Linked DNA regions of Homo sapiens. The protein of the gene in region 3 interacts with the protein of the main gene of each other region in a biochemical or structural test. Each region holds a gene or a part of one and is shown on either strand. Other genes may lie near its edges.

Region 1 (7,045 bases), on a different chromosome or scaffold from region 3:
AACTCCGTTTCATTTTAAAATCAGGCCAGAGTCTAAATTTTGCAGATATTTAGATATATGCACTAAGCACAGAAGCCAGCCCACTTGATTTTAGTAGGTAGCAGTCTCCAGCAGGTGACTCAGGGCTGAGCACAAAGCCAGATCTCCTTTGTGGCCATAAAATGGGTGGGGGACGGGAAACATAGTCCACAAAGGGGGGAGGGGTATTCCCAGCAGTCATGTGGTGGCCTGAATGTTGAAACCATTCCTCAGGATTTTCCTGGCAGTCTCAATTTTAATTAAACTCTTTTATCCTCTTTGTATTTCTTCAATCGCTTTTCCTAATTTTTTTATTTGGAAAAGATGGTCTCCATTGTCATAGAGCAGTATTACATCTGGAATTAGCAGTGAGTACTCTAACATCATACAAATCGTATCCTGAAAGGAGCTGGTAGGCACCTGGAACAGTTCTCTAAAGATACCAGGTCTGCTTGTACTGGAAGCTCTCCACAGGGAGAGAGTGGTTTTTCCTAATGTGAGTGATTTCTGGGAAAGGAGATCTCTGAAGCCTCGTTAGGTTTCTGACAATCCTAACTGTTGGCAGCTTTGCCTTCCTGGGTCTGGGATCAGGTTGTCTCTCGCGGACTTTGAGGAGTAGAGGAAACTCTCATTTATATGTCCAGTATTTGGAGCTCCACTCTATGATCTAGAATTTTCTGACTGCCTGTTTGGAAAGAGTCATTCAAATGTTTACAGCAGGTGCCGTGCTAGAGTTAGACTTTGGACACAGAAACAGGAAAGGTTCTAGTTGAGAAAGTGTGAACTTCTTAGAACTAATATGGAAATACTAATGTAGCCATAAATAGTGTTCAACCATCTCGTTTCTGATGCCTTTCGAATGTTCAAATGGGTGAACTATTTGTGAATTATTCTCTTCACCTCAGAGTACTTTCAGCGACTGAAAAGGCAGCCACAGCTTGTCATTTTCAGAGACGGCCTCATTCTAATATACCTTCATACTTAAAATGACTTGACTTTTTAAACTCTAAACGCTTTAAGCTTCTGGGAAATATCTTTCAGCTGTCAGCCTCTGCTCTACCAGGGTCCTGGTTCCAGATGTGGGTAGGCAGCTGCTGCAGCTCATGAACAGCTCTGACTTAATTCTCTATTTATTCACACTTTTCTTCCTGATTCTTGTAACATTCTTTTCTTCCTTGCTTAGCAGACACACGTGGCTTGAAGTTGTCACTCTCCATCGTAAAGGAGCTAGAGAAAAAGCTGCACTGTTGCCTGGGGTTCCATAGCAGATGCCAGGGACCCAGAGTGTACTGTGTGAATAGAGGGCGATGCCCCCTGACTATAGTGCCTTTTAGATCACAAGAACAGCCTCCAAGCAAATGTTGTTTTGATAGAAATATAAACAGTGACATTTTTTCTAAAGCTGCTTTTTAAGTCTCTCTTCCTGACTTTGCCTATTGAGGTTTTGATTTATCAAGGGACAACATGTCCTGTTTTTCTGCTCAAAATGGAAAGTGATGTCAAAATGAAATAGACTTTTAAAAAGAGTTTGGTGGTTTAGATTTTCTTTTTCTACTCTGGAGTCAGATACATACGTGTGTATATATTTGCCTAGTAAAATCATTTTCATGTGATGCTTGTGAAATGTCAGCATACGGAAAATGATTTCTTAAACAAGCGGCATTTGGCAGGCTGTATTTAGTTTTCTAGTCAATCATTTCATAACTATAGGCCTCATGTAATTGCCCATCCTTTGGAATTCTTAAAGAAATAGAAGAAACTTCCTTGATTGACTAGAGAGTTCTGTGGTTAAATTAATTGGCTGGTGCCTTGAACCTTTAGGGTACCCTGGACTTAATTCAGGTTAAGATCCTTAGATCATGCCTCAGTGTCACTCTCAGAGATGGGACTCTGTAAAAAAGCGACATGATCCTATACGACATTTATTACATTCTTGATTGTAACAGGAAGAAAATCTATATAGGGTTTGGCGATAAGTTAAAATAAGCAAGCTCAAAGGTCAATGGCCTATGTAAACTTACATCTTGGAGATGGGTAACACTGATGTGGTTTCTCTTTGCATAGTTGAACCCTTCCTCTTCCTCTCTCCCTCATTCACCCCTATCCTGCTGTCAGAATTGATCTTGAGTTTTGGTCTCTTTCCCAAGAAGTAGTTCAGTTTATGGTTCTTGCTACCACTCAGCTTTTAACAGCAGTAATACAACCATAATGCCCATAGTTAATACGTATTGATCCCTTACTAAAAGCCAGGCCCTGCCTGGGTTTACTTAATCTCAGGTATGTATGTTGTCAGCATCTTCATTTTATGAGTGAAGAATCAGAGGCACAGGGTCCTAAAGCTACCTTGCCCCCTCCCTTTTTAGTGGTGGAGGCAGGTTTACACACAAGACCACCTGGCCCCAGGTGCTTCCCTACTTCACCCAGGTAACTTCAGGCCCTAGTCTTTGAACCATACAGATTTCACTTAAGATCCTGGCCCTCTTCTTGAATTTATGTCAGACACATGTGAGGCTTCATTCATCATATATTTCTAAGCAGGCTTTTGTGTGTCTGTTTGAATTCTTTTCCAAGAATTAGGGGAAGTGGGAGTTGGGTCGTGATGTGACAGTCAAAGGACTTAGCCGGAAAGGGTAGAGTTAATGCATGACAGACAAGGGGACTCTCATCTGAAAATTTGTGTGTCTTTGTTTCTTCTCAGGTTCTCCTTACTATGACAATGTCCGCCCCCTCTCTTACCCTGATTCGGATGCTGTGCTGATTTGCTTTGACATCAGTAGACCAGAGACCCTGGACAGTGTCCTCAAAAAGGCAAGTGCTGGGAAATGATGACACACTTCAGTACTGGGTGATGTATAAATAGAAACGTGGGGTTTGTTGGGAAGCTCAAAGACTCTAATCAATTCCCTGCCTTACAATTTGTAATTAAACACTAGAAAGAACCCTTTCACACCAAAATGGGGTTTCCACTTTTTGATGATGAACTTGCTTGAAATTTTATTTCATGAAGCTCTGAAACAAAATACCTTTTAAGGGCCTTCATGTTTGTCCTTTGGGAGAAAAATGGTACAGCTAACAACAGTTATATTTGATTACTATCATATTCATGTGTTCCTTCCTTCTTTCAGTGACTCAACAGATTGCATCTTAGTTTACAGATTTACATTTGACCTCAAGTCAGATAGTGAAAGGAATGCAATAATGGCTATTTTAACAAAGAAGCTGTGTTTTAGTTATGGTGTTATTAGAAACAGAAATGGAACTAGTGTAGGAGGAATAGGGATGTGTCCAATGTGAATTGTCTGATGATCAGGTATCTGTCTAGTAATTATGACCAGGTATCTTTCTAGTAATATGGAAGCAGTGCTTGTAAACATGTTATATATTATAATGTACACATAGTTTATGGAGGCAAAGGTAAGTCAGGTTCCGTAGGAACCTAACTAAGGAAGCTATGGTTGGAAGGAACCAGGGGGAGATCAAGAGGAAGAGGACCTATTACAGGATGGGTCACAGGAACTAGGGAGGCCAGTGGGAGGAAGGGGCGTTTCTTGACCTTCAGCAGTTGAGACTCAGCCTCCAGGTAGTTGTAGAAGGCACATGCCGTGTTAGTCCATGGATCAGCATTTATTAGCCACTAGCTATTTTCTCAGCCCTGGCCTGTGTGCTGTGGGGTTTCAGAATCAGATCCTTGTTGGAGCACTCCCTCTCCTCCACACACTGGCTTCAACACCGGATGTGGCTGAGAGCAAGGCAGTGTCAACTGAGGGGTGACCCATGCAGCCCAGTCTGAGTATGGTATGGATTGAGAAAGACAAACATGCAGGTGTGGCTAGGTTGGTTTTGTTTTTTTCATTTTAATTTTTAGTGGAATTTATTTGTATTTTGTGTGTTTTTATTAGTTTACATTCCCCTATTATATTTGATTGCTTGGCTTGTGTGTCATTGTGAAATCAGGATTTGAAGTATAATAATCCTTCTGTCTCTACTAAATATTACAAACAGAGTTCAATAAAACTCTTAGTAGATCTCTTTCTTAATAGATCAAAGACTCTTTTTTCCTTTTTAGCTCCTTTCAATTTTGAGTAATACATATCTAACACAAATAATGCTAATGCTTGTCAAATCCAGGCAGGAATACACCTTTCCTGTCTTTAATGCTTGTAAACAATTGCTAGACATGCAGAGGGAGGCCAAAGTCATTACACAGCTGAAGAGCAACATAACAACATGTCTAGTTCTGTCTGGAGATAAAAGGGGTTGCTTATTTACTAGAGATTTTACTTGATGTAGTATCAGGCTATGCATAATTTATGATGAAAAGCCTTTCTCCTGTTTTATTTTGCTTTTGTCTTCTAAGACCAAATGAATAGTGACTTTGGGCTTATAGATATTAATGAGTATGTTTTACATTCCTGTGAGGTTTAAGGCTCATGATAACCCCTGCGGTTTGTCTTGATTAATGGAACCCTTTAAGTCCTTCACTATCAAAGAGGAGGTTAGAATGACTTGAAGTAGGGAGGATTTCTTTTTTTTTTTTTTCCAGTTCACCTTCCACTTCTAATGCCAGTGCCACCTAGCATGTGGTAGGTGTTCCTACATAATTCTGAAAGGAGTGAGGGAGAGAGGGAGAGAGGAAGGGAGGGAGGAAAGAAGGAAAGAAGGAAGGAAGGAAGGGAGGGAGGGAGGGAGGAAGGGAGGAATAAGTGGACAAAATGGGCTCTTATGGAAAGTATATTACTCCTTTGAATCCTCTGGTGTAGTTTGCACTAGAGTTCGTTACCCAAAGTACACCCCTAGATTTGGAGATGTCTCCTCTAGTGATCTTTTAAGTTATTCTTGCAGGATGTCCCTCTTATCTAGTGTTATACTTAATACATGACTTCATCACCCCCAGTATTCTGTGAATTTCCTTCCAGAAGACACAGCTATGTCTTAGTCATCATTGTCACTGCCACAGTACTTAGTAGAACACTTACATATTTGTGAATGTGGGTGGGAAGAGTCAGGCGCCACTTCCCCATCTCAGCCTCTCTAGGCCCTGCCCTCAAAGGCCAAAGATCTCCTGTGACCGCCCTGAACTCTTGACTCCCATGCTGTTGCAGAGCTCAAGCTTGAGGAAATGAAGCCACAAAAAGCTGCTTGCTTGTTCTTAAAGAGGACAGTTGGAATTCCAAGCCAGGCATTGCTGAAGGTTCTAATAATTCTTGTTAGATCATGAAACAACTAGACAAATTGGAATAGATTGAAATAGTTTTAAACTAACTTGAAGGCATATGAGCTACAGGACCAGCTGCCTTCCCGATGACCCAAGAGATGTTCCTTTGCAAATGTCATGGTCTGTGTTGATGCAACCATGTGAACAGAAACTCCTTCAAGGCAGGATGTTCTGTTTTATTAACTATCTCAGGTACTTAAAATAGAGCCTCAGCTCGTGGTGGCATGCTTCAGTGTTTCATGATGGGATCAGGGAATGCATACTTGTGCTAGTGTTGCCTCTGCCTTATCCCCAGCCTTCTAGTGAAGGAGGATCAGATCCACACATCGAAGGATGTGGTCACTTGTTAGGATATATAATTATTCTTAAGACACATTTATCTTTAAGAGACACACCAATAATTAAGACATTATTGAAGCTACCTTTGGACAACATCTACCAAGTCTCTTTCAGTAGCAACAGATGAGTCACAGAGAGGGAGAATCAATCATAATATACATAATTATTCTCTAATGCTTAAAAAGTAGTAAAACTTCACATCTGTTCAGGAGATAAATGCAAAGTTTGCTTCTTCATCTCAAGGGACACTCCATTTTTAACATCTTTTCTGAGTTTCATTCTAATGTCAGCCAGTGGAGAAATGGTTTTCATGATATGGATACCGTTACTTTGTTCATTTTTAATCTTTTTTTTTTTTCTTTCATAGTGGAAAGGTGAAATCCAGGAATTTTGTCCAAATACCAAAATGCTCTTGGTCGGCTGCAAGTCTGATCTGCGGACAGATGTTAGTACATTAGTAGAGCTCTCCAATCACAGGCAGACGCCAGTGTCCTATGACCAGGTATGTATGTTGCCCATGTGCAAAACTGGATTTTAGAAAGAGTGAAAGAAATGGACTATCACTCATAATAAATAAAATAAAAAGTAGCTGCTTTTCTAAAGGCTCACCCAGTGGTCAGTTGTGAAATTTAAAATGCTGTCATTTATTAGTGTAATTACATGATATTCGGGTACATAAACAGTTGATATGCTAACCTTGTATATTTCTGCACCTCCCAGTAGGTTTAAAGTTAAATAGGTTTAAGAGAGAATGTGGTCAAAATCAGTAATACTCTTTAAGAGGGGTAATCTGATTTTACAGTCGGCAGTACAATAATAAGGCTGTTGCCAGTAAAGTGGAACACTCCATAACACCATCTTTCAGAGAGTCTTCATTTCTGTAAGCATTTCCCCCAAGTATTTAGAAATGAGAATCAGTTTCAAAAGCTCATTCTCATAAAACCTACAACCAGATTCTAAAGAGAGTTCATGTTGAAATACCAAAATTTTATTAAGAATCATCATTTTAAATACCGCAGTCTTCTTAGTCTTCCATTTCTCATTAGCAAAAAATTTGGTATTTTAAATAAGTAGTTTTGGTTAATGTGCACATGCTTATTGTTGTGTACGTTGGTGGTATGGTTCACACTTAGAAATTACATATGTTGTGTTTCATAAAGTAACAGATGTTACAATAGTATTATTCCTTTCCTCAACGCATTTCGGCCCTAAGTAAGACACAATCACATACATTTCAAAATCGATTTTAAATTTCATTCATTGCCCCTGTTTTTGGTACAACCTAGTCACTAGTCTTGAATGCCATTTACCCTCAAGAAAAGAGAAATGAAGTGCACCATGAGGCGCTGGAACAGGTTCTCAAGGCCACATCGCCACGGCCAGAGCTGTGTGGAAAATGCAGAGTTTATGTTCATGACCTTCAGCTAACTTACTTCACTAGTAAGCTTCTCTGCGCCATTCCATGCTTGCTGT
Region 2 (4,356 bases), on a different chromosome or scaffold from region 3:
CTACTAAAAATACAAAAATGGCTGGGCACGGTGGCTCATGCCTGTAATCCCAGCACTTTGGGAGGCCGAGGTGGGTGGATCACGTTAGGTCGGGAGTTCAAGACTAGCCTGACCAACATGGAGAAACCCCATCTCTACTAAAAATACAAAATTAGCTGGGCATGGTGGCACATGGCTGTAATCCCAGCTACTTCAGGAAGCTGAGGCAGGAGAATCACTTGAACCCAGGAGGTGAGGTTGCCGTGAGCCGAGATCGCGCCAGTGCACTCCAGCCTGGGCAATAAGAGTGAAACTCCGTCTCAAAAAAAAAAAAAACACTAAAATTAGCTGTGCATGGTGGCGCGCGCCTGTAGTCCCAGCTACTCAGGAGACTGAGGCAGGAGAATCGCTTGAACCCAGGAGGCAGAGGTTGCAGTGAGCCGAGATGGTGCCACTGCACTCCAGCCTGAATGACAGAGTGAAACTCCGTCTCAAAAAAAAAAAAAAAAAAAAAAAAAAAACACAGAAACTCTGGCAGCCATCACAGTGTGATTATTTGTTTATTTCATTAAATGTTTAACGAGGCTACATTGTTTCCCAAACCAATGTCTAATTTGTGAAGGAAACAGCGCAGAGAAGGAAGCTGGGTGACTCCTGCATCTGGGGTGGGGAAGGGAGTAAGGTCCCCTCCCTCCATCCTACAGAGGCCTTTGAGGATCAGCAACAGTCCCATTCCCTCCTCCCACCCACTGAGCTCCTCAGCCCAGAGCCCTCCTCCCCAGAAATAAAACGTCTGGCAACCCAGACCTGCAGAAAGGGACCAAAAATCCATTCCTGGTGGTATTGAAAATGTATTAAACTTTGGGGGGTCCTCCAGCTGATTGATTTTTCTAATTATGTTTGCTTTAGATGGATATTTAAATGCATTTGCATTCCCTGAGCTCACATGGCAGGATATGGAGGTTGGAGGAAAGAGGGGGCACAAACACTCCACACTCTGCACTTTGGTGGTTGCAGGCTTGAACCTGCTATACACTGAGAAGTCCAAAGTGGAAAAGAGAAGCCACTCAGCTAAAAATCGCAAGTCGATTTTTATGGCAGGTCCTTGTGGGGAAAGGGTCAGTCCTCAGAGACAGATGGAGATCCACCTAGCTGGGCCTGGAGCCCCTGCCCTCTCCTGTACCCTTAGCCGAGGACTCAGGGTCTTTGAGTCAGTCCCTAACCAGGTCTCAGTTTGAGGGGGTGGTTATCCAAGCACACTTAGATAATTTCAAATGCCATTGAAGTTATCCTAGAATCTTTGAGACTGGCTGAGATGAACTAGTCCCATAGGAGAGGTTGGGATAGGGATATCTGATGATCCAGGGAGTGGTGGGTAGGGATTCCTTTCCTCTCAAGACTGGAACCTGGCATAAGGGAAAGGAGAAGCTATTTTTTATTTTTTATTTTTTAATTTTTTTTAGAGACAGGGTCTCACTCTGACACTCAGGCTGGAAGACAATGGCATGATCATAGCTCACTGCAGTCTCTAACTCCTGGCCTCAAGCGATCCTCCCAGCTTGGCCTCCCAAAGGAGGAATCTTGGCTGGGATTATAGGTGTGAGCCACTGCCGAGAAGCTATTATTTTAAATGACACACCTCAGAGCCAAATCTCCCAGCTCCAACACCACATCCAGATAACCATCTATCCAAAAAACAACTCTGATCACTTCACTCTCTGCCTGAAATTCCTGGTGGCTTCATCCTCTGAGGATGATTTCATTCATCCTCAGAATGAAATTCTGATTCCTCTGTGGACCCTGCAGTAGCCTCAGTGTACCTTCCTAGCCTTGTCTTCTATTCTCCCTGCCATGGGAGCCCCAACAGTGCTATGCTCATTCTCATCTCCACGTGTTTACACATGCTGTACCCTCTGCCCAGAGTGCCTTTCCTACCCCTTCCCTGCCCGGAAAACTCCTCTTCAACCCTCAGGACCTGGCTCACAGGACTGGCTTCTCAGGCTGCAAGGAGCTCCCATAGCATCCCATACATGTACAAATATCCCTCAGCCATGGCACCCTCACACCTGAGGTACCTCTCTTCCACACTGGGCTGGCCTCCAAAAGCTTAGAGACTGGTCCTTGCAATCTCCCAAGCCAGTGTATGCCACACAGTTGGTGTTCAGTACATACTTGCTGAATGAATGAATGAGGGAGGAATGGGCTATAAATTTGGGTGGGATCCCAGCAGATAGTTGGGTAAGGTCAGTGTTCTCTTCCAGTGTGTCTGGGAGAACTGGCTAGGGCTGGGGGAGGGAAGGGCCAGGGATGGTTCCTGGGGGAGAATGTCACCGAAAAGAGGCCAGTGGGACCAGAGCCAGGAAGGGAATACAGGACAATCTGAAACCAGACTCCCGAGAAAACAGACCAGTACTGTCTTTCCTGACAACAGGCGCTCAGCCGTCCTCTCCACCGTCTTTCCTTTAAGGGACAGGGTAGGGGTGACTCTAACAGCTGATGCTCCCCTGAAAGCCATCATGAAACTCAGCATGGGAGGAGAGAAAGGTCCCTGGCCTGAGCCTCTAAGGAGACCCCAGAATCAAACTACTGACCTCTTAGGAAACTTCACGCTGTACAGGGGTAGCTTCTGTGATGTGGAGGCTTTTGATGCCTTCTTTTTTTTTTTTTTTTTTTTTTTTGGAGACAGAGTCTTGCTCTGTCATCCAGGCTAGAATGCAGTGGCGCAATCTCGGCTCACTGCAAGCTCCGCCTCCCAGGTTCACCCGGGTTCACACCATTCTCCTGCCTCAGCCTCCCGAGCAGCTGGGACTACAGGCACTGCCACCGCGCCTGGCTAATTTTTTGTATTTTTAGTAGAGATGGGGTTTCACCGTGTTAGCCAGGATGGTCTCGATCTCCTGAACTTGTGATCCGCCCACCTCGGCCTCCCAAAGTGCTGGGATTACAGGCGTGAGCCAGCGCGCCCGGCCTGATGCCTCCTTATCCCCACAACCCCCAGGGTACCAGCAGGCTCCAAGCCAGGGGTACAGATGGTGAGCAGGACCCCTCCCACACTAGCAGCAGGCCTGGCTGGGCTGAGAAATGCTGACTAATTATATGTCGGTCTGCTCTAAAACCCCCTAATGGCCTGAGAATTGCCCACTTCATTAACTAGGATGAACAGTCCCAGGATGTCTCCTTCTCCCAACTCTGACTCCTAAAAGGACACTTCTGATCCAACCTATGGCTTTGTCCTCTGCTCTATCTGTGGACATGGACAGGAAAGTTCCCCAGCTGAGGTCTAACTTTCCCTCTTACTGCTAAAGATTGGTAGATTGATTTTTTTAAAAAGCAACAAAACTAAAGCCACAGCCGTTTTCCATGGAGGTGGGCTTTATTAGGTGACTGTTGAGGCAAGGGAGGTTCTAGGGCTGGTGGACTGATGGGGGGCAAGGGCTTCTCCTTGCTTTTGAATTTAGTGCATGTTGCCTAGAGGTTAGATGTGTGAGAATAGCTGCAGAAGTGAGAGGAGAGGAAAAGAGAAGGTCATAGAATGGACATTTTCCTTGGGCCAGAACCAGGATATGGGGACTGGGGGTGGAGAGGGAGGGTACTCTTCACATAGGAGACTCCACCAAGGTCACCATTTGATACCAGCTTCCCTAACGCCCACCTGCCCCATCCCAGTTCATGCCCCAGATGCCAGCCCTGTTAGCTCCCTCAACATCCACTGGAGAAGAGGAGGGAGGAGGAGATGAGAAACGATGATACCCTTCTGCCCTCCAGCTCCCCTGCCCAGAATTGCTCGCTCTGCCTGCCCTAACTTCCCAGCCAGGATCAGGAGGTCAGGAAGCCTGGGCGCAGGCAGGGGAACAATTGTGTCCCTCACCACCCCTCTTCACACTCTGCCCTCTCCTAGCCCCTCACATGAGGTTGCAGCTTTTGGCTCGATCCTTGTGTATCTCGCCCTCATTCCCCCGGTCTGGCCGTCCTGACAGCTGAGCGGATCGCTGCATTCCCCGGCGTGAGTCAGTTCGGCGCAGCTGCCTATGGCCACGGCCAAGGGAGGCCACTGTAGCCACATGGAAGACATCCCTGACGCTGCGCTCAGAGGACCGGGAGGAGCACTCAACATAGGACACAGCCCCCACCTGCTTGGCCAGCACAGTGCCCTGGAAAAGGAAGGAGTGCATGGGAGAAAGTTATAGGTCTTAGCCTGCAGCTTAGAAAGGGGCATGGAGGCTGTGGGCTGGGGTTGAATGTCAAGGCTGGGGGCAGTCAAGGGATCAGGTCAGAGGTCACAGACCAGAACAAAGGATGAGCCAGGTAAGGTGTTTTCAAATCAGAGACTGAAGGGGCAGAGGTGACAGGTCTAGGCTGGGATGAGGTCAGACGTCA
Region 3 (2,970 bases):
TGTCTCCCAGGCTGGAATGCAGTGGCTTGATTGTGGTTCACTGCAACCTCCGCCCCCCCAAGGTTCAAGCAATTCTCATGCCTCAGCCTCCTGAGTAGCTGGGGCTACAGGCGCCTACTACCATGCCAGGCTAACTTTCGTATTTTTAGTAGATGTGGTTTTGCCATATTGGCAGACTGGTCTCGAACTCCTGACCTCAAGTGATGTCCCTGCCTCAGCCTCCCAAAGTGCTGGGATTACAGGCATGAGCCATCATGCCTGGCTTTAGTTTATATTTTAAAAGTACATTGCTGGTAATGTTTCTCACTTCAAATATTACAGACCAAAAGACATTCAGCAGCTATGCCTGTGACTGCCAACAAATGAAAAATCTCTAAGTCAAATTTCCAAGAAGGATATCTAAAGACTGTATTCTCTCAGATAGGTATTTTTTATCCTTTCACCTACATTTATAAACAATCCCAAATAATAACAGTATGATAGTGTGTACAGCTTCTGATTTTACTTATTTTACGGAATTAAACAGAAGTCTACTTCTTAGAACACCTAAATATTTATTTGGATAAAATAAAATAACAAGAATCTGGAGAAAAGAAACTAAGAGCCCCAAAGTTAAAGCTGGTAAAATAGTTCAAGAACTTGCAGCAAGTACCTAGAAAATATTAAATGGTTAGGACAAAACATTCACAGTTCAAGGTCCCAAGAAAATGATCTGGTGAGCAAATACATATACACACTTAAAACTAATCTGGATGAATTAGTGAAGCAATGAATAAATAGGTCAATTACTAAACCCACATAACTTATTCAAATAAAATCTAATACAAAAAATAAACTTAAAAAAATAGGTTAAAACACTAAATCTTAACTAAAATATTAGGCAAACTAGAACAGGAGGGCCGTTATTAAATTGTTCACAATAACTTACTATTTGAGACAAAACTGAATAGAAAATCTGAATTGTGAGAATAAACAAGTTGTTTCTCAACTACAATTATTTGACAGCTACTCAAAAAGTGCATATACTGCAGGTCTTAATACTACTAACTACTGGTAAAAATGACTAAACCAGAACTGCCAGCACCAAATTAATTTCAAGGGTTATAATTTTATGCATTTAGTATTAACTAAAATGCTAATTATCATTGGTTAGCTTTTCAAAATCATACTGCCTACAGAATTTCCACAAAAGACTAATTTCACACAATTTAATTAAGATGTGAATATGAGATTCTGTGACTCTTCCCACTCCTCTCCCCCTGACAAAGAAAACTCATATAGTGGAGGAAAAAATGGAGTCATGCAAATAGGACAATGATGAGGATCAATTGAATAGTGAAGACTCCCAAAGTTAATTAATTAGATTTTAACTGCTTCAAAAAGACCAGGGTACTTGGATCACATCAAGTAACTGGATGTTGGAATATGAGATTAATGCTTGTACAATCCTCTCATTGTATGTAAAGATGCTATCCTAAGAAAATGATTTGAATAGTATCTTCCCTTATTAAATCTTAGAAAATTTTACTTTCAGGTATTTCATAACCTGAAAAGGCTAAGAACTTCCAAGAGTTCTAATACAGTAAAAAAATCAACCATGTCCCATATGTATTGAAACAAATTAGAAACTGTTAAGAATTTAAGTACCTTGAAACTACTAAATTCAAGATAACACAAAGATTCATGTTGAACAGACCTCACCAGATCCAGACTGACAACATATACCACAAAATTTGGCCTAATAGTCACAAACCATGAAGACACAAATATATTCGTTAATATTAGCAGCTCTGCTATAACTAGAATAGTTTTCAAAATATTTCCAGTGGCTCTAAAGAATGTCTAGCCACAGCTCAAAAATCACATCCAGGTAAGATCTTAGTCTTAGAAATCTGTGCATTATCTTGTTTTCCTGATAATTTAAAAAATCAAATTTTCACCTATATACATCCCCAGAAAAAATTTTGAATCTCCTTTTCAGGTACAGTGAAAATTCAATAATACATCTCCTTAATAAGATTTCCATCATATTGATAAATTTATATTTTTATTTTTCATTTCACTTGAAAAAAATTAGCTAATTTTTACCAATGAAATGGTAAAAATAGAGGCAACTATAACTTAAAATTACACAGCTTCTTAATGTTTTATTCATAGCATTCTTTATACATCAGAAGCTTCACTGATATTTAATTTACTGCAGCATCCTGTAGGTGAAGCACAAAAATTACATTAAACAAAGAAACAAAAGCACTTTTGACTTTTTAAAATTATATGTGTATTTATATCCAGTTGACAAATAGCATCACAATTATTACTGTATAAAAAACTAAAAATCACCATGGAAGCTAAGGCCTAAATTCTCATTCCAATTGTTCCCTTTTGTTGATACCTAAGAGATATTAATTAGATTCCAGTACCTCAAAAAAAAAAACAAACCCAAATAAACAAAAAAACCCAGGTCTACATTATTTACATACAGTATGGGAAAAAAAGCTGCTTTTTGGCTAACTTAGATTGCGGTTACCTGCAGTATTTACACTGTAAATGTTAAGGGGAAGAAGCACTACTAACAAATACCATTTAAAAAAAATATATTGTGCCTGGAATTTTATTCTTAAATTAGTTGTATATCCTAATAAGTGTCTGTTGAATAGAATTTGACTTCTAATAAATCTACTGAAAGTGTGAAACAGAGTACCACTATGCTTCTTTATATTGCTAATCTAGATCCTGTTAGGTCCAATATTGTAGTTAACTATAAGCACTGAACCTTAAATGAAACAATGGCAACATGTGTGTAGATGAAATTTTATTCAGTATTGTAAAATATAATGCCTTGATGTTTACTCACAATTATGAGACTATCCTATTCTTTTAATCCTTTAAGAAGTCTCATATGATAGGTCCCTAAACAGTGAAACCTTCCAGTAACTTACCAGAAAAAAGTTTAATTATGTTATTCTGTTC
Region 4 (7,602 bases), on a different chromosome or scaffold from region 3:
GCAGTAGCGGATTTGGAACCCAGACAATCCGTGCTCAGAATAGCAAGCAGCCCCTCTCCCTGCACCACAATCGCCATGGAAACTGGGGGGAATCCAAGCTGGTGGGGGGATGTTGGTCATTAAAAAAAGGAATACAGGGGAGTTGGGATAGCTGCCTGCTCCTTCAGCAAGCCTCCTCCATCCCTTTCTGAGGTGGGGTCTTACCACTGCAGCACTGAGGAGCGGAAGCACTGCAGCACTGGGGAAGGGGGAGGGGAGGAGGCCTCCATTTTGGCTCCAAGCAATCCCCCTCCCCTAAGACTAGCAAGTAAATAATGGGAACAGGGTCAACCCTGAGCCCAACATTGGGAAACCCTATCCCACACACCATGGCCACTTCCTCCTTCCTTATGGGAACCTAATCTGAAAGAGGGAGTTTGAGAATAACTGACAGCCTTTATCCTTTCGGAAATTGGGGGTGGGGGTGTGACACAGGGAACAGAGACTACACTTGCTGATTTTCCATGATCTGGTTTGGGATTTGAGGGCTGCATTCTGACTGTCAAAGGAGGGAGGAGGTGGGGGGAGGGCGTTTGGGCGGTGGTAGTGAAAAGAGATGAGCTGCAGTAAGATTCTGGGAAGATTGGAAGGTGGGAGGGTACAGCAGATGAAAAACCAAAAATTATACATCATGCCATCAAGCTGCATTCTAGCCCAATCTTGCCAGCATAGCACAGCCCAGGAGAACCAGAACGCTGCCTCCCAAGCCCTGAAACTGCAACAGGGAAAAGCATACCAGATTGGGGAATTTTTGTTTGGGGAGGAAAGGCTCATTGTCTGTCTAACCATTCCCTAGCCCCAATCTTTTCAGACCTCAGAATTAGAGCATGGGAACAACAGCTGTTGAAGGAGCAGGACAGCATATTTATTATATGTAGCAGGAAACACCTAGTGATTTACGGTCCCTTTTTAAACTCAGCCTGAATATGCATTTTTGGGGAGGGGTGGATTTTATTTTCTTTCTCTTATTCCCGGCTTTTACTCCTTAATTATGACTCTGAGCCAGTCTATTGAAAAAGGTCTGGGGTAAAGAGATAATGGGAAGGGGTCAGAATCAAGGCAAAGGATAGCCTAGCACTAAGGGCTTGGGGCTGAGAGGCTGGAAAAACATTGTTTCTACATTCTAGAGAGACAGGGCATATTCTACCTCACCCCAGTAGAGGGAAAACAGTCAGAGCCAACCTCCCCTCTGCCCTGCCGGCCACTATTCACAACTGACTATGCCCTATATTAAGCCATCTCCCCCAACTTCCAAAACATCGATGATGCATTGCTTCATCCCCGAGCTGCAGCGGTGTGACGAGTGGGGCTGAGCTGCGGCAGGAGGACAGCAGTGGCCCAAGATGGAATGCAGGAGACAAAACTGAGTCTGAGCAACCTTTCCCCAAAGCAGACTTGTCTCTCCGCCCCAACCACGCTGCCTCCAGCAGCACTGCCTCTTGCCTCTTATTTGGCTTTGCTCTGGGGAAGTAAAAGGTGTGTGTGTGTGTGTGTGTGTGTGTGTGTGTGCGCGCGCGCGCGTGTGTGTGCATGTGTGTACGCGTGCATGTTGGGTGGTAGGGAATGGAAATGGAGAAGTCCTGTTTTACTGCCCACCCCCAGGACTATTCATGGGTCCCTTCACCTCACCATCCCAGCCCTCTAAAGGGTGGAACCAGACCCAGGGAAGAGAGTGGCTCCTGGGGTTCACCCACTCTGCACCCTTGGACCATGCAACTGAGTCCACCAACTGTCAGCCCTCCCCACAACTAATGAGTCTTCAGATCCTCTTTTTTCACTTCTCCCCACCAAAGGGGAAAACAATTTCTAAAAGACAGCAGCTACACAGCAGACCAGTAGGGGTGGGAAAGGGGTATTTGGAGCAGAATTCTTACCTGAGGTATCCCAGAGACTAAGCTCCACCCTCTGTTCCTCTGTCTCCAAACAGGCTGTGTAATTTTCGAACACGGTGGGCACATAGGTCTGTGAAAAGAGAGGAAACATTCACCCCATGCACCCCTACCCTCAGATCCCCTGGTTAGTGCTGGCTACACACGCACTCACCAGAGAGACAGTAAAGTCACAGGAGACAAGAAACCAGAGGAGATGCCTGGGGCAGGAGGGAAGGGACTGTGGAGGACCAGGCACTTTGCTCTGCAGCAGTGAGAAATGTGAATGACACCCCCCCACACCACCACACCAGGGGTAAGCCCCCCATATCCTAGGCGATCAGGGACACACACACACACAGATTCCTCCCATCCCCAGATTTGTGTTTCCCAATTTGAGAGAGCCACAGGCCAAAGCCAATCCTAGCTCATCTCCTCTCAAACCCCTCCCGGCCAGGTGAACAGAGGGGCTGCAGAAGCCTGCCTGAAGGCACAGGCATAGAGCCTTTGAGGAGCAGGTGAGCGGATAGGCAGGGATTACGTCAAGAAGAAACCCCAGACTTTCAAATGCCTCCAGTGCCCTCACCTGAGAGCAGACTCCAGGGACGCAGGAAGGTGGAGGGGATCTGATGGGTCCTCTGGGTGAAGAGGTGAGGAGGAGCCAGCGGGGCGGCAGAAGTGGAACAGGTCTCAGGGGAAGCTAAGGCAGGGCAGTCCTCCAGCCAAAAAGCAGCTGAGGATGGTAAAGCCTCAGAAAGCGGCTGAGGATGGGCTGGGGCTGGGGGAGCCACGTCTCCTGAGCAGGTGGAAATCTACCCCAAGGCGGGCAGGCAGGGAGAAAAGCCGGCCAGCGGGCGGGCGGGCAGCTCACCTCTGGATAGCAATCCTTCGCTAACACTTGCAACATCGCGGTCTTCCCACACTGCACGTCCCCGACCAGAACGAGCTTACATCTGGCCACGACTGGCTGGGGGGCCCGTCTCTCCTTCATGGTTGCAGTGTCCGCGGGACTTGAACTTCGATTCAGAAGGGAGGGTTGCGCCAGGTGCGTCTCAGCACGCCAATCAAGCCAGATTCCCTGCCTCCCTCCAACTGAGGAGGAGGCCGGCACAGCCGCCTTTTATTTTTCTGGCTGAGCCAATCACAAGAGGAGGCGGACTCTGTTACGCCCAATCCCTGAGGTGGGATTCCCTCCAGCAGCCAATGGATCTGAGGATCTGAGTCAGCGCCCCCTTCCTCCCTTCTCTTTCTCTTAAAGCTGCACCGTTGTTTCCCCCTGAAAGGGGATTCCCAGGTTGTTTTGCATTTGTATTAGGAAGTGGAAAGGGTACTGGAAGCAAAATGAAATGATCTGGAGTGTCTACCAATAAGTGTCAGAAAAACAAACTAGCTATGGAAGCAGGAAGTGAGGTCAGGCTGGAGTTGCAGGGACTGTCCCGGGTGGGTTACAAAAGCAGGACCTGCTTAGACTATAGACAGGTGTGTGTGTGTGTGTGTGTTTTGGAGGAGTAGGGGATGGGGGAGGTGGCCCAGAACTTCTCTGACATTTTTTTTCTTTTTTTTCCTTACATCTTTTGTTTTAAATAGAGACAGGGGTCTCACCATGTTATCCAGGCTGGTCTTGAACTTCTGGGCTCAAGCAATCCGCCTGTCTCAGCCTCCCAAAGTGCTGGGACTACAGACATGAGCCACAGCGCCTGGCCTGATGTCTGACTTTTTTGTTTTTTCTAATTCCCATCCAAACCAGTTCTTACTTCCCTTTATTTCCCCTCCCAATATCAGCTCCTGCTGTACCTCTTTTATTTATTTATTTATTTATTTATTTATTTATTTATTTATTTATTTATTTATTTTGAGATGGAGTTTCGCTCTTGTTGCCCAGGCTGGAGTGCAATGGCACGATCTCAGCTCACTGCAACCTCCATCTCCCGGATTCAAGCGATTCTCCTGCCTCAGCCTCCCGAGTAGCTGGGATTACAGGCATGCACCACCATGCCCAGCTAATGTTGTATTTTTAGTAGAGACGGGGTTTCTCCATGTTGGTCAGGCTGGTCTCGAACTCCCGACCTCAGGCGATCCGCCCGCCTTGGCCTCCCAAAGTGCTGGGATTATAGGCGTCAGCCACCGTGCCCGGCCTGTGCCCCTTTTAAAGCCTTCTCTTCTTCAAGAATCACCTTCACCACCAAAGACAGAGAGAGAGAAAGAGAAAGAGAAAACTTTCTAGAGTCATCCATAAAAAAAACACACAGCACCTGACCCAGTGATGGGCAGAGAGAAATGAGGGACTCTGGCAAGTGGGGGTGGGAGAGAGGAAGAAGACAAAGCAAACACAGTCACTGTTTGGCCAGACAGCCTCTCACCCATGCCTAGCAGAAGCTGCTTAGGGGTGTTTGTTCTGCGGCCTAGGCTCAGCTTCCTGGATGAATCAGGCACAGGTCCAGTTCCATGTTAACGCCCACTGAAACTGACGCACTAATGTGTGTCACCTGGTTAAAGTCCAGACTGGGCCCAGGATTTTGGGATTAGAAGCTGGAGGACAATCTAAGGTTGAGATGAACTACATAAATTTTTTTTTTTTTTTTTTTTGAGATGGAGTCTCGCTCTGTTACCCGGGCTGGAGTGCAGTGGCTTGATCTCAGTTCACTGCAACCTCTGCCTCCCGGGTTCAAGCAATTCTCCTGTCTCAGCCTCCCGAGTAGCTGAGACTACAGGCGCACGTCACCATGCCTGGCTAATTTTTGTATTTTCAGTAGAGACAGGGTTTCACCATATTGGTCAGGCTGGTCTCAAACTCCTGACCTTAAGTGATCCACCCACATCGGCCTCCCAAAGTGCTGGGATTACAGGCGTGAGCCACCGCGCCCAGCCGAGCTTCATAACTTCTTAACAGCCCTGACTGATGGGGCCCCTGTATTTTGGGGAGCCTCTACTAGACAGAACTATGGGCTGTCCACAGCTTAAATAAACCACTGATTGTCCAGGAATCAAGACCGTACAAATAAGGGCTCCTGGAGATTTGTGATTGAAGGAAGACCAACTTTGGGCAAAATTGAGAGTAGTCCCTTTCCCTTGTCAAGCCCAGTGTCTCCTGGGCCTTGTTTCATCTGAGCTTTACTTTTTTTTTTTTTTTATACAGAGTCTTGCTCTTTCACCCAGGCTGGAATGCAGTGCCACAATCTCGGCTCACTGCAAACTGTGCCCGCCGGGTTCAATCGATTCTCCTACCTCAGCCTCCCGAGTAGCTGGGATTACAGGTGCCTGCCACCACACCCAGCTAATTTTTGTATTTTGAGTAGAGATGGGGTTTCGCCATGTTGGCCAGGCTGGTCATAAACTCCTAACCTTAGGTGATCCACCTGCCTCGGCCTCCCAAAGTGCTGGGGTTACAGGCGTGAGCCACTGTGCCCCAGCCTGAGCTTTACTCTTAATTCACAGTTGTTGCTGCCCCACCCAGGGATAGTTTCCCTGTGATAAAGGATGCTTGAAAGCCTTTCACAGACCCAAAGGGACAGATCTCTAAGAATGAGATTTCTAGTGCCCACCACAGGCAGTAGGAGAGTGGATGTTGTTTTGAGAATACAGCCTAACCAGTGTTCCTCCAGTCAAACCTCGTCGTGGCTCTGGGGCCAAGGCCTATACCTGCTCTCCACCCATGTCCTAAGCTCCATTCACTTCCAGGGATGGGGAATGGCCTGAGGGAAACTTCAGGGTGGAAAGGCCAGATGTTACCATTAGCTGGCTGCCGTCTCTCCCAGGCTTTCTGAAGGTTTCTGCCCTTTATCTCCCCTCATCCTCCACCCTCAGATAATGTTCTGTGGATAGAATTTGTCCTCTTCTTGCCCTTTTCCAGCAGCCTGACAGCCTCTGTGAGCTGTCTATAAGTGGGGTTTGGGATAGTTCCAGGAACAGCTGTAAGATCATAGACTGCCTCAATCTGGAGTCCTTTCCCTCAGCCTGACCTTCTCCTTCTGTATCCTCCTGTCCCCTACCTTCAGTCTCATCTGGGCTTAGTTCTGGAAGCATCAGTAGAGTTCCTATGCATCCTCTTTTTTTTTTTTTTTTTTTCCGAGACAGAGTCTTGCTCTGTTGCTCAGGCTGGAGTGCAGTGGCACAATCTCCGCTGACTGCAACCTCCGTCTCCCGGGTTCAAGCGATTCTCCTGCCTCAGCCTCCTGAGTAGCTGGGATTACAGGCACGTGCCACGATGCCCAGCTAATTTTTGTATTCTTAGTAGAGACGACGTTTCCCCATGTTGGCCAGGCTGGTCTCAAATTCTTGACCTTGTGATCCGCCTGCCTCGGCCTCCCAAAGTGCTGGGATTACAGGCATGAGCCACCGTACCCAGTCCCCCATACATCCTCCTAACCCTTAACTGAGTTCCCTCCAATCACAACCCCACAGGTGTTAGCCTTCTCTCCATGTTCTCTACCAGCCTCCCCCTACACACACCATTCATCCACCACTCCAAATAAACTTTCAGAATAAGTAAAAATTGTTCCTGCTAAGCAAACAGCTTCTTCTGGCTTCTAAGAACATTGCCATTCCTGAGCTCCTCCAAGACAGAAATTCTGAGAGCTGGTGCCAACACTGATTCTTCCCTGGGTGGCTGCATTTCAGGGTCAAGTAGCAGAAGGCCCGAGCCATTATACAGAGCAGCCTCCACCATGGCTGAGGCCCAAGATGTGTCTCCAAGGATATTTTGTGGGTCATATGTTTATGAGTTTTGGTGGAAAGGGTGTTATGTGTGTGAAAGCGTGTGTGTTAGATCAGTGGGCAGGGAGGTAACAGGAAAAGGATGGAACTGAAGTTCAGCAGGTCTAGGCCTTGGACCTCGCTCTGCCTTTAACAAGCTGTGTGCCTTTGGGTAAGTTACTTCCCTCTCTGGGTGCCTATTTCCTTAAATGCAATGTGAGGGATTTAACTAGAGAAGAAGTTTTTAGATGTTATTTAGTTTATTTATTTATTTATTTTTTTGAGATAGAGTTTTGCTTTTGTTGCCCAGGCTGGAGTGCAATGGCACGATCTTGGCTCACCTCAACCTCGCCCTCCCGGGTTCAATCGATTCTCCTGTCTCGGCCTCCCAAGTAGCTGGGATTACAGGCATGTGCCATCACACCCAGCTAATTTTTGTATTTTTAGTAGAGACGGGGTTTCTCCATGTTGGTCAGGCTGGTCTGGAACTCGTGACCTCAGGTGATCCACCCACCTTGGCCTCCCAAAATGCTGGGATAACAGGCGTGAGCCAGCGTGGTTGGCCTAGATGTTATTATTATTATTATTATTTTAGCACTTAGATTCTCTCCTCCAAATTTGTTTAAACCTCTTTTAAATAACTTTATTTCAAACTCCATAGCCAAGACCAGGTGTTGTGGCTCACACCTATAATCCCAGGATTTGGGGAGGCTGAGGTGGGAGGATCACTTGAGCCCAGGAGTTCAAAACCAGCTTAGGCAATAGAGTGAGACCCCATCTCTACAAAAAAACTTTAAAAATCAAATAAAAGTCTGTAGCCAGATTAATACATTAAAGTGGCTCTTCCGGGCCAGGCGCAGTGGCTCACACCTATAATCCCAGCACTTTGGGAGGCCAAGGTGGGTGGATCATTTGAGGTCAGGAGTTCGAGACCAGCCTGGCCAACATGGTGAAACCTCATCTCTACTAAAAATACAAAAATTAGCCAGGCTGGTGGCGGGTG

What was found.
Region 1: the proteins of ARHGAP5 (region 3) and RND3 form a complex in vitro, tested with the Homo sapiens proteins (one study listed by BioGRID).
Region 2: the proteins of ARHGAP5 (region 3) and RND2 form a complex in vitro, tested with the Homo sapiens proteins (one study listed by BioGRID).
Region 4: the proteins of ARHGAP5 (region 3) and RND1 form a complex in vitro, tested with the Homo sapiens proteins (one study listed by BioGRID).

The regions. Positions count from the first base shown.
Region 1 is NC_000002.12:150,470,656-150,477,700, reverse strand, and holds part of RND3 (rho-related GTP-binding protein RhoE precursor), read left to right. Parts: intron 1-2,716; coding exon 2,717-2,826; intron 2,827-5,939; coding exon 5,940-6,074; intron 6,075-7,045. UniProt on the Homo sapiens protein: Binds GTP but lacks intrinsic GTPase activity and is resistant to Rho-specific GTPase-activating proteins.
Region 2 is NC_000017.11:43,028,206-43,032,561, reverse strand, and holds the end of RND2 (rho-related GTP-binding protein RhoN), read right to left. Parts: intron 4,131-4,356; coding exon 3,882-4,130; 3' UTR 3,473-3,881; coding exon of another isoform or gene 3,448-3,472; 3' UTR 521-3,447; downstream 1-520.
Region 3 is NC_000014.9:32,157,293-32,160,262, reverse strand, and holds the end of ARHGAP5 (rho GTPase-activating protein 5), read right to left. Parts: 3' UTR 535-2,970; downstream 1-534. UniProt on the Homo sapiens protein: GTPase-activating protein for Rho family members.
Region 4 is NC_000012.12:48,862,870-48,870,471, forward strand, and holds the start of RND1 (rho-related GTP-binding protein Rho6 precursor), read right to left. Parts: upstream 3,002-7,602; 5' UTR 2,899-3,001; coding exon 2,779-2,898; intron 2,002-2,778; coding exon 1,914-2,001; intron 1-1,913. UniProt on the Homo sapiens protein: Lacks intrinsic GTPase activity. Has a low affinity for GDP, and constitutively binds GTP. Controls rearrangements of the actin cytoskeleton. Induces the Rac-dependent neuritic process formation in part by disruption of the cortical actin filaments.